Linked DNA regions of Homo sapiens: region 2 is reported to be linked to region 1. The links are microRNA targets in miRTarBase. Many come from high-throughput screens and were not tested one by one. Region 1 holds a microRNA gene; the other region holds the end of a gene's coding sequence.
What was found. The annotated mature microRNA hsa-miR-135a-3p reads UAUAGGGAUUGGAGCCGUGGCG and lies in region 1 at 2,006-2,027, shown strand. An mRNA with a match to its seed (bases 2 to 7 or 8) in the 3' UTR can be bound and repressed. Matches are read on the target gene's strand: a 7mer-m8 pairs with bases 2 to 8, a 7mer-A1 pairs with bases 2 to 7 and ends in A, and an 8mer does both.

Region 1 (3,528 bases):
GGTAATGCACCTCTCCTATCTGCAACCCCTTCCATCTCCTTGCATGCCCCCAACCCCCGCCCTCTGCTGTAAGGAAGCTGGCTCTCAGCATTAAAGTCCCAAAACAGCTTCATGACATTATTCCCTGCCAAAATCTTCATGAGGTTTGCCACTGATGTCAATGTGAAGTCAACTCCCTCGGCCAGGCACACTAGCCTCTGCCAGTCTTCTGGGCCTTCTTGCCCAACTTGCTCATTGTATCCCCTACACTCTAACTACACCTGTGTGTCTCCACCCTGGGATGGGGCACAGCAGAGCTCAGAGACTGGCTGTGGGCTGCACTACACATACACATGCTTATACATATATTCATGCACACGCACACATGCACACACACACAGATGTGCATACAGATGCAGACACACATTTATGTAGAAGCCCACCACTCAACTGCGCATGGTTTTCTGCCAAATCACACACACAATGGAGCTGTCCCTCTGAGACAAGAAGGTTCCAACACATCTGCTGTGTGGATCCCTGGAGAGGCCAAGCATGGTTGTGTCGCCATCCCAAGCCCTTGAGGGGCAGTGGGGAAGCAGAAGTAGATCCCCTGGATCTGGCTGAGCCCTTGCTTGGCCCCAGGGTATCTGAGCCCCAGAGAGTGGCAGAGGATAGTCAAGCAGGTTCCAACTAGGTTCTTACCCTGGTTCTGTGGCCCTTATGTGGGACTGTACAGTCCCCAGTAAGCCACCTTCTCTCTCTGAATCTCCAACTATAAATCAAACGCTTGGGACTAGCTGACACTGAAGGGCTGCCCAGGCCCACTGCCCCACTGCTCTTGGCTCATGCCAAGTGCAGAGAATGGAGAGGCCTGTGAGGGTTGCTATAGCCAGCAGGGCCAGACACCCTCCATGGTGAAATCCTCCAGCTGGGCCAGGGGAAGCTTCAGAAAATGACGATGAGGTGGGCACGAGGGCAGCAGCAGCCGGAAGAAACAGAAGCCAAGAGCAAGGGACGGGCACTTCAATGATCCAAAATTGACATTTATGGAGCAAGTAATGAATCCTATCAAAACATTCACTGTGCAGGGTTTTCTCATCTCAGCATTTAGACTGTGGCCAAATACATCCTTTCTTATCTCTGGGGTATCCAGTGAGCAAATCTAACGGGTTAGGCTCACAGACCATTTGGCCCTATGGGGTCCAATCCGGGCCCTGGCCTCCCAGCCCCTACAAACAGAAGTATAGGGAAGGGGTCAATGTAGAGCAGGGGGAACCTCCTGCAAGATCCTATCCATACCCAAAGCCCTCAGCAGGGATGCAGGGAGTCATGTGCCCTGTACTAAGTATCTATGTGTACACTCAGAGATGCATTCCCACTCTGAGTACGCCAACACCAACGTCTGTATACTCACACACCTACCACCCACACACACACTGGGGACATGGCTGCCAGGCCCTCAGCTCCTGCAGCCCCTGCCCCAGCTCTCCTATCCTGCTTTTGCCTGGAACTTGGAACCCAGTGCCAATACTCATGCTCCCAAGAGCAAGGACTGAGGCAGGAACAGGCTACATGTAGACGCTGCCAGAGGAGCACCACGGCACAGGATCATGCGAGGATCACCATAACCCCAGAGACTGTGACCCTAGTCAGCAGGAACTCCATGCCAGCACAGAAGGAAAGGAAGCGGTGCCTGCGCATCCCAGTGGGGTGCAAGCTCCCCTTTTCCTAAACCTCCCTGGTCCCCAGAGCCCGCTTACCACGTTTACCTCCCTCCCAATCTCCAGCCTGCCCTGTGTGAGCCAGGCCCCCAGGTCATGAACTGTCTGCAAGCTAGGCTGCCCAGAGCCCAGGTGGGGAAGGGAAACCCTTCCCAGGGGAAAGTCCTGCCAGCCCTGGCCCAGGGCCCCTCCACACCCTCAGGGAGGAGGGGAGGGTTGGGGTGGAAGAAGTGCCTGCAAGAGCAGCCCCAGGCCTCGCTGTTCTCTATGGCTTTTTATTCCTATGTGATTCTACTGCTCACTCATATAGGGATTGGAGCCGTGGCGCACGGCGGGGACAGCCAGCGGAGGGTTCTGACACTGAGCAAGGGGGCTCAAAAGGAGGCAGGACAGTGGCACCTCCCTCTCTCAACCCAGGCTGCTGGCCAGGCCAACACAGCCGTTCCTCTATTCCCACTTGCCTCTTCTCCCGCCAGTGGTCACAGGAAGAGGTGTGGGTCACTGGACCTCATCACTGGCTGGACCCACCATCCCAGTGCTGGGACCCCCACTGAAGGGCTGACTTCAGGGTCTGGACTTGGTCCCCAGAGGAGTGGCTGAAGGAACTAGGGATGTTCAGCCTAGGACAAGGGCTGTCACAAGGAAACAGCACTGGGGGGTGGGACAAACTTCAGCTCAACCAGAAGTGCAGTATGTGGCTAAGGGCTGTCCAAAGACAGAAAGGACATCCATCCAACGAGGCCTACAAGCTGAGGCTGGAGAAGCCATGGTGACAGTGCCATGGTGGAGTCATGGTTGGGTGGGTGGGTGGCTGGTCACCCCAGACTGCAGTCTTTAGGCCTGTCCTCCCTGGGGTCTCTGCTCACGCACATCAAAGCTGTCAGGAGCCAAGCTCAACCCTCACACACTCCAGAGGGATGGGCACAGGCTCCCGTTATGCGAGGCACATCCTGCACGTACCCAGCCCAGTAGAGGGGTGTTAAGAGTCCTGCCAGGCCCTGGTACTGTGGCTGCAGCCGTACCACGCTCCCCTCCCAGCGGCTCCCCCGTGAGGCCTCACTCTGAGGGAAGGCGCACTGAGAACCCATGGCATGGTCCTATTTATTTTCAGACATTCTCGCTTCACAGAAAGAAACAGGGTGAGGGGCTCAAGAGAGAGGCTGCCCAAGGGAGAAGCACGGGAACGCTGAACTGGCCGAGGGGCTTGTCCTCATCCTCAGGGGTAGGGGGAAGCCCCCATCTGCCAGTCTGGCTGGAAGGGAATAGATATAGAGCAGAGGCCCTGAGTGGAAGGTGACAGTTAACCAAACAGCCAAGGCCAAGGAGAGGAGGGGCCCTAAGGCTTAGAGAGGCCCTGAGGACCAACCTTGCTCTGCCATCTGACCTTGCCCTTGTAGGCCTCCTCTGAACTCCCAAAATGTGACCTATGCCATCACCGAGGCCGCAGGAACAAGAGGTGGGTGTCCATGACATTGGTACCTGTCATCCCTGTGTGCAGCAGGTGTGCCCCACCCTGGAGGCAGCAGAAGAAGGTATGTGAGTCATTGTGGGCTAGGAAGGTGGCTATGTCCAGGCCCTCAGCTGCAGCCTGGCTGGCAAGCTCAGGTGTGACCCAGGCCCCAGCAGCCTCTGTGGGCCCATCCTGCCCATCGGTGCCACCGCTCAAAAACAGCACATCTATCGGCCCCAGCGGCCACCTTCTCAACTCTGCTCCAACACGCAGGGCCAGTTCCTGGTTCCGGCCACCCCTGCCCGAGCCCTGCAGCTGTACTGTGGGCTCGCCACCAGCCAGCAGGCAGACTGGGCCCCTTCCCCATGCCATGGTCTC
Region 2 (3,000 bases), not on the chromosome of region 1:
GACATGTGGTTTTCAAGCCTACATATTAGCCACTATACCAGATTGCCTCTCCATAGATAACAGGTCCATAAACAAGCAACTTAGAATAAATTCAACTTCAAAGAAACAAATAAAAATCCAGAAGTGGAATTAATTTTTTCAGAGGAAGAGAGGAAAACAGGAAGTAGTGAATTACCCTTTTGTCCATTGTGACATTACAACTAATTTCTCCATCTCTGTTTTCTTCCAGTTCCACTGTTGCTCAGCCATCTGAGATGCCCCCATCTCCTCTGGTGTGGGAGTGATGGTGGAAGATAATGTACTACTGAAGATGTAATGTAGCTTTCCACTGGAGTCTGGGATTTGCAATTCTGGAGGTTAATCATGCTTGTACTGTAATTTTACTAATGAAGTTTTAAATTAACAACCACTACTTGTATGATATGAATAATATTTAGAAATGTTACTAGACTTTTAATCTTGTAAAGTGGTTGTGCTTTTAGAAGAAAAATATTTTACCCAGAGTTGCACATGTTTTATGAATTTAGTGCAGCTGTTATGGCTCACCTCAGAACAAAAGAGAATTGAACCAAATTTGGGAGTTTGGGGTTTTATGTTTTGTTTTTCTTTTCTAAAATGAAGTGAGATTGTTCACACACACACACACACACACACACACACACAAACACAAAGGACAGTCATACATTTTGATATTTGAGCCATTCCTAAAGATTTGGGGTTTTCTAAAACTAAAGAATCTAGGAACCTTGCCTGCGACCAATCATGGAGCCACGTGAGCTGATCGTGGCTGCACCTGGGGGGAGGGTAGGGAGGAGGGGCATGCCACCTAATGATCAAGCCCTATAATTAGCTTCTCATTAGAGCCGTGATGGTGATGTGTGCTGTCTAAAATCCAATGTTGTGGGTAGAGAGAATGAGTTTGTGACTAGGAGAGACTAAACTTTTGTTTTCCTTACCCAGTATAAATATATATATATATATTTAATCTATTTTTATTAGAAGTTTTTCTGCTCTTTCTTACATAAAAGAACCCCAAGCATGCATCTTTCATGTGTGTAAATAATTCATTTCTGGGCTAATTTCAAAAGAATCCCAATATTGCTGTATAGAAAGAGAACTAGCTTGCACATTTTAGGTCTGTGAAATTTTGTGAGACTTTTCCTGCACTGGACAGTAAAAAAATAATAAAAGACAAAAACAAATTTAAAAAAAAATTTAAGCCACAAAAAAAGGCACATAGGGAATTATGTCAAATGTGTTTGTGTCCTTAGGCAAAGCTGTGGGAGTCTTGAAATGTCACAGTAGTAAATAACTTATTACTTTTTGACAAGTTCTTTTTTTCTGTTGGAACACTGAATTCTTCTGTGCATATGTACATATGAATACAAATCGAAGGCCTCTACCTCCTGGAGTTATACAACTTGGCTTGTTTACCTCCACATGCTGATGATGACTATTTTTTTTTTTTGAGTTCAGTGTGGAGACTTGAAACTTGAATGTCCCTTCCAACTTTTATATTAAAAATAAAAAGACAAGAAAATTGAAGATCATTTTTCACCTGTACAAGGAATACTAATGGATCGTCTTAAAATTGGTCTAGGAAAAAACCTTGGTGTGTGTTATGGACAATTAACTGTTAAAGTTATTGTAAGTTATCTGTATTTAGCAGAGTATTTTCAACTTGAGTGATCTGAGCTGAATTTGAAGACTATTAATAAGTTATGTTTGGAAGTTTTAACTTCAATGAAGTAATTATTTGCTGTGAAAGAAACAAACATTGAATTACTAAACAAAGATGGTGCAATATCTTTGTTTTTTTTTTATGAGGCTCCTGAGAATCAACCCAACTGAAGCATTTCAATTCACTTGAATGAGAAACGTGTTTAGTATCAAAAGAGCCCAAGAAGACACTGGTGTGAAAGGTACAATCTCAGAGGTTGGTCAATTACCGTGGCACACTTTCTGGTCACTTTGTACAATGTAGATTTGAAGTACAGTGGTGAAAACATTAAATGTGACATTTGAAAAAGATGTGTCATCTGTTTTATTTCAGTTTCTTTCCTTTGTTTTCTCTTCAGTACAGCTCGTATCCTGACTTTGCAAAGTTTTGAGACACTTCCTATTTATATTTCCACTTTGATCTTTGAGGAAATTGGTTGTTTTTAAAAATCTTCTCAAAAACTTTAGATTGACAAAAACATATTGAAAATTTAGTTAAATCAATATCAAAGATGTGATTTAAATATACACAATAGAGAAGTCTTTTTAGACCTTGGAGTCTCTAATCCAGTGGTTTTCAAACTTTTTTTTCTTTGAAGCAATATCTTGGAGTCCAATATATTAAATACATAAAAGTAGATTGCTCTGTATGAAGCAGACTGGTAAAGGGACTTGACACCTCCCTCCTCTTCACTTCTGCCTCCTGCCTCTAGCAGCCCAAAGGTACTTTCAGCTAAGGAAGAAGTCCCAGCCCAGTGGTGGTGTAATCAAGGCCTGAAACCAGACTGCCTGACTTCAAAATACTTTCCCTGAGGCTAGATAAAGCAACATTACTCTTGAGTTTGTAGGTGGCGTGTACTTCTCCCTATCTTTTTTATTTAGCAAAATGAATGGATTTTTTTTCCTGACATTGAGGCAGTTGACTATTCTAACTCATGTAAATTAATATAAATACATTTATTATTCATTCAACAAAATTTTGAATACTTACTAAGTATAAGAATTACTTGTCAAGAAGCCATATTAATATCACCAATGCTTAGATAAGGAAACCAGTTTTATCACTTACAAGAGAGCATTTTGAGTTAACACATATCATTTTGAAACTAAATTCTGACCGGGCATGGTGGCTTACACCTGTAATCTCAGCACTTTGGGAGGCTGAGGTGGGCAGATCACTTGAGGTCATGAGTTCAAGACCAGCCTGGCCAACATGGTGAAACCCCATCTCTACTAAAAATATAAAAATTAGCCAGGCATGGTGGCGGGCGCCTATAATCC

Region 2: the mRNA of NLK is a reported target of hsa-miR-135a-3p. Seed matches in the 3' UTR shown: 7mer-A1 at 839-845.

Annotation. Positions count from the first base shown.
Region 1 is chr3:52,292,731-52,296,258 of GRCh38, reverse strand. MIR135A1 (microRNA 135a-1) reads left to right here and starts at 1,951; the gene lies at 1,951-2,040. It overlaps GLYCTK (glycerate kinase), which reads right to left. Exons shown (of 5, transcript NM_145262.4): 5 at 1,002-3,528. The coding sequence ends at 3,133.
Region 2 is chr17:28,194,353-28,197,352 of GRCh38, forward strand. NLK (nemo like kinase) reads left to right here. Exons shown (of 11, transcript NM_016231.5): 11 at 230-2,029. The coding sequence ends at 284. Among named protein-coding and RNA genes, the nearest start is that of TMEM97, 120 kb to the right of the region's middle.